Linked DNA regions of Homo sapiens. The protein of the gene in region 1 interacts with the protein of each later gene in a pairwise test. Each region holds a gene or a part of one and is shown in the gene's direction. Other genes may lie near its edges.

Region 1 (3,747 bases):
CTTCTGGAAGCTTCACGCTCCGCCCGCTTCCCCTTGGGGTCTAAGGCTGGACCAACCCCACCCCAGCTCATCCTGAGGTGAGCTCTGGTCTGCTGGGGACAAGTGGTCCCCTCCAGGACAACATGGGCTTTCAGCTCTGTCCCGGGCAGGGAGGGGGCTGGCAAGTGGGCCTGGGGGTGGAGGAGCAGGCAAGAAAAGGCTGCTGAGTGTGACCTTCTCAGTAACCCCAAGAATATAACAATATCAGCTGCACACACCATTTATTAGGTTCTTACTGAGTACCAGGCTCTGAAACACATTTCCTGAACCATTGTCTTTAGTTCCCCAACTACACCATAGGACAGGTGCTCTTCTCATCCTGTTTTACAGGTGAGGAACTGAAGTTTGGACAGATTGAGTCACTTTCTCAGGGACACATGGCTGGCCGGTGATGGAGAAGGTACTTGAACCTGGGTCTGCCTCTGCTCTCTCCACACTCCCTTGCGGGGGCCCGGGGCTTACTATAAGGCAAGGATGTAAGACAAGTTCCTCCTTCCCTCTCCTTCCCACAGGAGCAGAGGCATCGCTGGGCTGGAGGTGGGAAGGATGGACCTGGGAGCAGCGCAGGGGGCTGGTGTGGCAAGAGGCAGGCGGAGCTGTGAGGCCGAGTTCGGGGGGAAGGGGAGGACTCCTGAGAGCCCGTGGCCAGGCTCAAGGTGGCTGTGTCCTCACTGGCTCTAGTCCTGCAGGCCTGGCTCTCCAGAGGAGCCTGCCAGCTCCTCTTCTGCCCCCTCACAGGCCTGAAGGAGACCCTCCAGATGGGGATCCAGGCCTCTTTCCTCCAGGCCAGCCTCAGACCCTACGGGGGACGGTTCTGGGAACGTCCTCTGTGCCAGGTGTCTGGGGACTGCTAGCCTTCTGGGGGGGCTGGATCCTCAAATCGTGAGCCCCAAGCAGTCCCTTTCCAAGGGATTGGAGTGAGAACCTCGTGGGGCAGAGCCAGATCTACCTAGGACCCAAGGGGAGTGTCTCAGGCAGGACCCCCACAGGCAAAGACACACACACTGGCCACACACTTGCCTTCGGATGTGTGCCAAGCAGCTCAAAAGGATTTAAAGTCCAGCCAGGTGGGGTGGCTCACACCTGTAATCCCAGCACTTTGGGAGGCTGAGGTGGGCAGATCACTTGAGGTCATGAGTTCGAGACCAGCCTGGCCAACATGGCAAAACCCCATCTCTACTACAAATACAAAAAAAATTAGCCGAGCGTGGTGGCAGGTGCCTGTAATCCCACCTGATTGGGAGGCTGAGGCAGGATAATCGCTTGAACCCAGGAGGCAGAGGCTGCAGTGAGCCGAGACCATGCTACTGCACTCCAGCCTGGGTGGCACAGCGAGACTCCGTATCAAAACAAAGAAAAAGATTTAAAGTCCTTGGGAGAGGTGGAGTCCACACCTCTCTTCAAGATGTGGCATGAAATGGTGAACAGCTGAGCACACAGGGCAGGAGGGCCCCGGGGGACCTTGGGCAGCCCGGGAACCAGCATGGGGTAGCAGGACTGACCGGCTCCCGGGGCACCTTGGTAATGCTGCAGGTGTGGCCAGTTGATCCCCTGTGGAGACAGTAAAGATTAAGAGGATCATAAACTGCGTCCAGCGGCTGCCCCGGGAGAAATCTCCTCAAGCCAGAGCCTGTGCTGTGAGGGGCTTCGGGACCTTGGGGCAGCTCCTGAGTTCAGACAGAGTTCAGGAAGGGAGACAGGGGCACAGAGAGACAGAGGTTCATGGACTGAGGCAAAGGCTGGGCCAGGCTCAGCAACCCAGGCCTCCCGCAGGCAGGCAGAGGCTGCCCTGTAACCCATGGAGACCAGACCAACAGCTCTGATGAGCTCCACAGTGGCTGCAGCTGCGCCTGCAGCTGGGGCTGCCTCCAGGAAGGAGTCTCCAGGCAGATGGGGCCTGGGGGAGGATCCCACAGGTATGGCTTCTCCTGGAGGTAGGGTTGGGTCTGGGCCCTTGGGGAGCAGGGTAAGGGCCAGAGGTTCGCAGGGACCATGGAAGGAGCCAGAACAACTCAGACCCAGCCCCGCCGGCTGTGGGCAAGGGTGGGGTAGCCTGTGGGTAAACCCAGAATCCTAGAAACACGGTGGGGCGGGGATGGGGGTTGGGGGCGGGCAGGCTGCAGAGCCAGGACAGGACAGCCTAGCCGATGGGGAAGGAAAGAACAGAGAAGCGCCCTTAGGGCTTAACAGCACAGAGGTCCCTAGTGGCGTTGACAAGAATGTTTCTGTGGGATGATGGAGCCTGAAGCCACCCACAGAGAAGGGATGGGAGCTGGGAAAGTGGAGCTAGGGCTCGGACTCTTGCTGAAAATTGGCCATTGAGGGAGGAGAGAGGGCAAGGAATGGGGGTGGGGGCTGGGGTGTGGATGCACAGTGAGGGAGACACTTCTCCAGATGGAAGAGTCACGCGTGGGTTCGTTCAAATGCGGGTGAGCGGGGCCTGAGGACTGGGAAAGGGACCCGAGGGAAGGAGGGGAGCGTGCAGCCCTGCCCCGGCCCAGCCCTGCCCTGGCCCAGCCCTGCCCCCTGCCCCTCAGGCGTGAGCCCCTCGCTCCAGTGCCGCGTGTGCGGAGACAGCAGCAGCGGGAAGCACTATGGCATCTATGCCTGCAACGGCTGCAGCGGCTTCTTCAAGAGGAGCGTACGGCGGAGGCTCATCTACAGGTGAGTGCGGTGGGCCCTGCTGGGCGTCTGCCCCTGAGGGGTTCTGGAGGGGTGAGGGGGTGCTCAGGGGAAGAGGGGCTTGGGCAAAAATGTCCAAGCCCATGGCTCAGGGCATGGGAGGGACACTGACCCCTGGGGTCTCCTCTTCACCTGCAGGTGCCAGGTGGGGGCAGGGATGTGCCCCGTGGACAAGGCCCACCGCAACCAGTGCCAGGCCTGCCGGCTGAAGAAGTGCCTGCAGGCGGGGATGAACCAGGACGGTGAGGCGGGGGCTGGCCCGGGGGGAGGTGACAAGAAATGGGCAGCGGGACTGGCGTGTCGTCCTGACCCTTCCTGCCTCCCCAGCCGTGCAGAACGAGCGCCAGCCGCGAAGCACAGCCCAGGTCCACCTGGACAGCATGGAGTCCAACACTGAGTCCCGGCCGGAGTCCCTGGTGGCTCCCCCGGCCCCGGCAGGGCGCAGCCCACGGGGCCCCACACCCATGTCTGCAGCCAGAGCCCTGGGCCACCACTTCATGGCCAGCCTTATAACAGCTGAAACCTGTGCTAAGCTGGAGCCAGAGGATGGTGAGTGGGAGAGCAGCTGAGGGCACAGCAGGGCTTGGCTTCCCGGGTCACAGCAGGGCTGCAGCGCCTTGCCTTGATCCTCCCTCCCCCGGGGCTCCAAGTACTCCCTGCCACCTCCCGAGAAGCAGGCGCTAAGATCACAACCTCCTCCTCCAACAGCTGATGAGAATATTGATGTCACCAGCAATGACCCTGAGTTCCCCTCCTCTCCATACTCCTCTTCCTCCCCCTGCGGCCTGGACAGCATCCATGAGACCTCGGCTCGCCTACTCTTCATGGCCGTCAAGTGGGCCAAGAACCTGCCTGTGTTCTCCAGCCTGCCCTTCCGGGATCAGGTACCTACCGGCCTGCCTGCTGGGGAGCTAGGCTGGGCTGGGGTCAGGCGGCCCACTCGAGTCAACCAGACAGGGCACACACATCCCCACGCCAGTATGAATGCACACAGCTTGGATGGTGATGGCTGGGGACACACATACC
Region 2 (3,647 bases), on another chromosome or scaffold:
TATAATTAACTATTTACTGAGAGGTCAAAGAGGCGCAGGCGCTTTGAGCAGTTTTCCCAGGAACCCACACAAAGTCAATTAAGGTCATTTAATTGCAAATCGGATTTGGGGTGACACGGAAATGCTGATATAGAATCAGTTAGCTGTATCCGGTGTCCCCAGACTGGGTCGCACAAATTAAGGGATGGCCTATCTCGCTTTTGACCTTGGTTGAGCCCCCTACTTCACTATGCTGATTAGACTTCGCCCAAGAGGGCAAATTTGCCTCTCCCACACCCGCCCTGGGTTAGACGAGTCCCCTCCCTTCCCCCCAACCCCGCTCCGCCCGTCGCATGGGGGCGGGGAGCGCTGGACGCCCTTAGCGGACCTTGCTGCATCAAACCTGCATCATGCCCTTGAAGCTGTAACCTCGGTCACGTTCTTGCGGCGACTGGGTCGCCCACTGCTCGGTTCCTTTCTCTTACCTCCTACAATTTCAGGTAGGTATGACAGGTGATTTTTTAAATGTAGTATTTTAGGAGAAGGGCTAAAATCGATGCCTTTGCAATGAAAAAAATCCCAACTACAGGTGCTCTCGTAATTAAGCGGCCGAGCAGGTGTAAAAACGTGCTCCAGCCGCGTGGCTCCGGGGTGGGTTTTGACTTCCAGCCGTGGGGCCGGGTCTGAGGACAGGCACAGGTTTTTCTGGGGAAAAGGGATTGAGCTTGGCGAAGGGGCGGGCCAAGGCAAGGCAGCGATGGGACGCCCCCTCGGTGAAGAGTTGGCCATTTCGGGTCTTGAGTTGGGGGGCGATAGAAGGATGCGGCTAGCGGCAAGCGTTTGCATAGTCGAGTGCAGGATTTCCTACTTTGCGTTTGAAGCAGAGTACAGCACCCCGCACAGGTACTCTGGGCTTATTTAAACGTCAGGTTCTCTCTAGAGAGGCAGGGAGGGGCAGCAGGGGGCTAAGCCTTTATTTTCTGTCCAGGGACAGGACCCCTTGGCTGCGAAGTAGGGGGAAAAAGAGAATTTTTAAAAGAGACACACATATGTGTGTATACTTATATATATTTATAAATACATTTATGAACACATAAAGTAACCCCCACGTTAGCTGCTCTGACTCCCCGTTAGCGCCCCGGGCCTCGGGATTTGCAAACTTGCACCTGGAATCAGCCTCCTCTGGGCGCTCAACGCTCTCCACCGAGTCCAGAGAAACCTTGTCGGGGAAGCCTGGTGAGACTCGGAAGTCCGGAGGGACGGAGCTGAGCTGCTGAAGCCCGGCATCTCCCTGCCGGCACGGACCCGAAGGGCGGTCGGGCAGGGCACGCGCCGGCGGCGGCCGCGGCGCCGCGAACTCGCCGCCGGCCCCGCCTCCTGGCGCTCTTCCAAGCAAGCCCCTCCTTCCCGCCCCGCTACAAACGGCGGGACCGCGGCGCCTGGGCGTCACTGAGGCAGTAGCCGGCCGGGTGAGGAGGGCGGTTGCCGGCGCGGCGCGGCGCGGCGCGGGTGGGGCGGGGGTTCCGCCGGCTTCCAGTCCCCTTTCCCGCCGCCGCCGCCGCCACCGCCTCTCCGCGGAGCTCGCCCCGAGCGACTCCTCCGCGGCAGTGCTGACGGCCAGCGGCACGAGCCGTAGTAGCTGCAGCTTCGAGTCACAGCAGGCAAGTGCTGGGGGCGTGGGGGCGGGGACGGCGTCCGCGCCTTGCCCCTGGTCCATTTTGGACGCCGAGGCTAAGGTCTGTGCGCGCCCCCGCTGCGTCTAGCAGGGTAGGGGTGGTGCGCCCTAGTCCGAACTCTGGGCGGGAACACTGGTGGGGGCGGCGGAGGTTGTGCCCGCGAAGTTCCTAGAGCTCAGCCCGTTGCGGCGGGAGTAGAGAGAATTGGGCGCCTCGGGAGGTGGCACCGCCCCTCCCGTGGGCACAAGCAGGTTGGGGGCGGCGGGAGCCGAGCGGGGACAGTCGCGCCTGGCAGCGTGCACGGGCGTGGACGTGCCCGGGTGCGGCCGCGTGTAGCGCAAGAAGGAAACTGTTGAGACGCAGGTGAGTGTATTGGAGGGAAAGTGGGGGAGGGGGCTTTTCTAGAAAAAGGGCAGGATTCCTGTGTTGCACTGGCAACCCCGCCTTGCGGGAGGATGTGTGCACTGGCTTCTCCCGCGGAACACGCCGGGGTGGTGTCTGGTGTGTGCCCACTTGCTACGGCGCCTTCGCGCGCGCGGTCCTTGGAGCTCTCGGGGCGTTTGGAGACTTAACACCGGCCGCGTTGTGTGCGGAGGTGGTGTAGGGCCGCGGGCGCCCAGGGCAGGAGCAATGATGATCCCCTCGTGCGCGTTAGGTGAGGCCCGTCGCAGCCGCGCGAGGTCGCAGCTCGCGGTCACATCTCGGGTTTGCGCGCGAGGCGTGCGCTGCGCGGGAAGCGCGGGCGCTCTGCCGGGCGAGGCCGGCTCTGGGATTTCAGTTCGCTTGCCGTGGTTGCGGCAGCTGCTCCTCCAGCTTGGCTGGTAGGGCCTGCCAGCGGCGGCCGGGGTGCACGGACTAGTGTGCGTGCACTGGTGAGACTGGGGGAGCCAGCGTCGGTTCACTGGCAGGTGCTCCTCCAGTGGCCGTGACAATGCTTAGCCAGCAGTCTTTCTCACGGCATTTCCTTAAAAGCCTCCTTGTTATCCTTCAGGGCCAGAGCGTAAAACCATGCCTCTAGATGCGAGCTATGAGCATGCAGTTGTAGCTGCCCAGATGGTCATTTAGAATTGTGTGCATTTTTAAAGACCATCTTTATGACAAAGATTTTCAAGTCCTATCGTCTCTACATTTTCTGAAAACATGGGAAAAGGATTTGCTACGAGTTGTCCACTCTCCTTTATTCCCTCCCTCAAAGAACGGTTCTTAGAAGTGCCAAAATGTAATACCTTCGGCAAGGACAAAAGCGCTTTTAAAACTTAATTTTCTAGTGGCCCTATTCCTAATAATTCTTCATAAAAATTTAGCTCAGCCTCAAAACTTACGGCGAATCAGTCCATTTAAAACCATTCGAATATCAATTGCTGTGTAATGTCCCCATTCCCTCAAGTAAAATCTGTTTGTTTGAAATATTGTTTTGTTGCCCTTGAAGAGTTTTCTCAAGAATCGTTTCGCCAGAGTCGCTTGAATTTCCCATTTCTTGTGGAAGCTGACCTGGAGTTTCCATTTTGGTGAGCGGGTGGAAAAGCTGTCCTGCATCTACCTTGTCTTAGTAACCTTTGGGTATATATAAATGGTGACTGTATTGCTGAGTGGACCCGAATGTTACTGCATTTGTGGTAGGGGCCTTCTTTATAGGAGGTTTGTAGGGATGCTAAGGTAACAACACTTAAGGTTGTGGGGAGGATATACTTACGGGAAGTTCGCTTGCAAACTATGGGGAGAGAAAGAAGAGGAAGAAAACATCTGGAAGATAAAGGCCAGAATGGGGTAGGAAAAATTAGAATATGAAGAAACATGTTACATTAAATTTTCTGTGATTCCTCCTTTGTAATTTTCCTTTTTGAGAGAGTATTTTTATTTTTGTGTGGTTAAAACCAGCCCCTTGTTGCCTGTTATTTGGGTAACTTTGTGCTGCCACCTTTCAGGGAGTTAGTTGTTTTTTTCTTCCTTTGAAAGACAACTTTAGGTGTTAAGCCCCTCCCTCTTCCTTAT

What was found. The genes of interacting proteins can lie anywhere in the genome.
Region 2: the proteins of NR2E3 (region 1) and ELAVL2 interact in a two-hybrid assay, tested with the Homo sapiens proteins (one large-scale study listed by BioGRID and IntAct).

The regions. Positions count from the first base shown.
Region 1 is NC_000015.10:71,808,907-71,812,653, forward strand, and holds the start of NR2E3 (photoreceptor-specific nuclear receptor), read left to right. Parts: upstream 1-1,647; 5' UTR 1,648-1,837; coding exon 1,838-1,955; intron 1,956-2,576; coding exon 2,577-2,703; intron 2,704-2,859; coding exon 2,860-2,963; intron 2,964-3,048; coding exon 3,049-3,270; intron 3,271-3,429; coding exon 3,430-3,605; intron 3,606-3,747. UniProt on the Homo sapiens protein: Orphan nuclear receptor of retinal photoreceptor cells. Transcriptional factor that is an activator of rod development and repressor of cone development.
Region 2 is NC_000009.12:23,819,598-23,823,244, reverse strand, and holds part of ELAVL2 (ELAV-like protein 2), read left to right. Parts: intron 1-112; exon of another isoform or gene 113-479; intron 480-689; exon of another isoform or gene 690-882; intron 883-1,424; exon of another isoform or gene 1,425-1,640; intron 1,641-1,935; exon of another isoform or gene 1,936-2,018; intron 2,019-2,088; exon of another isoform or gene 2,089-2,310; intron 2,311-3,647.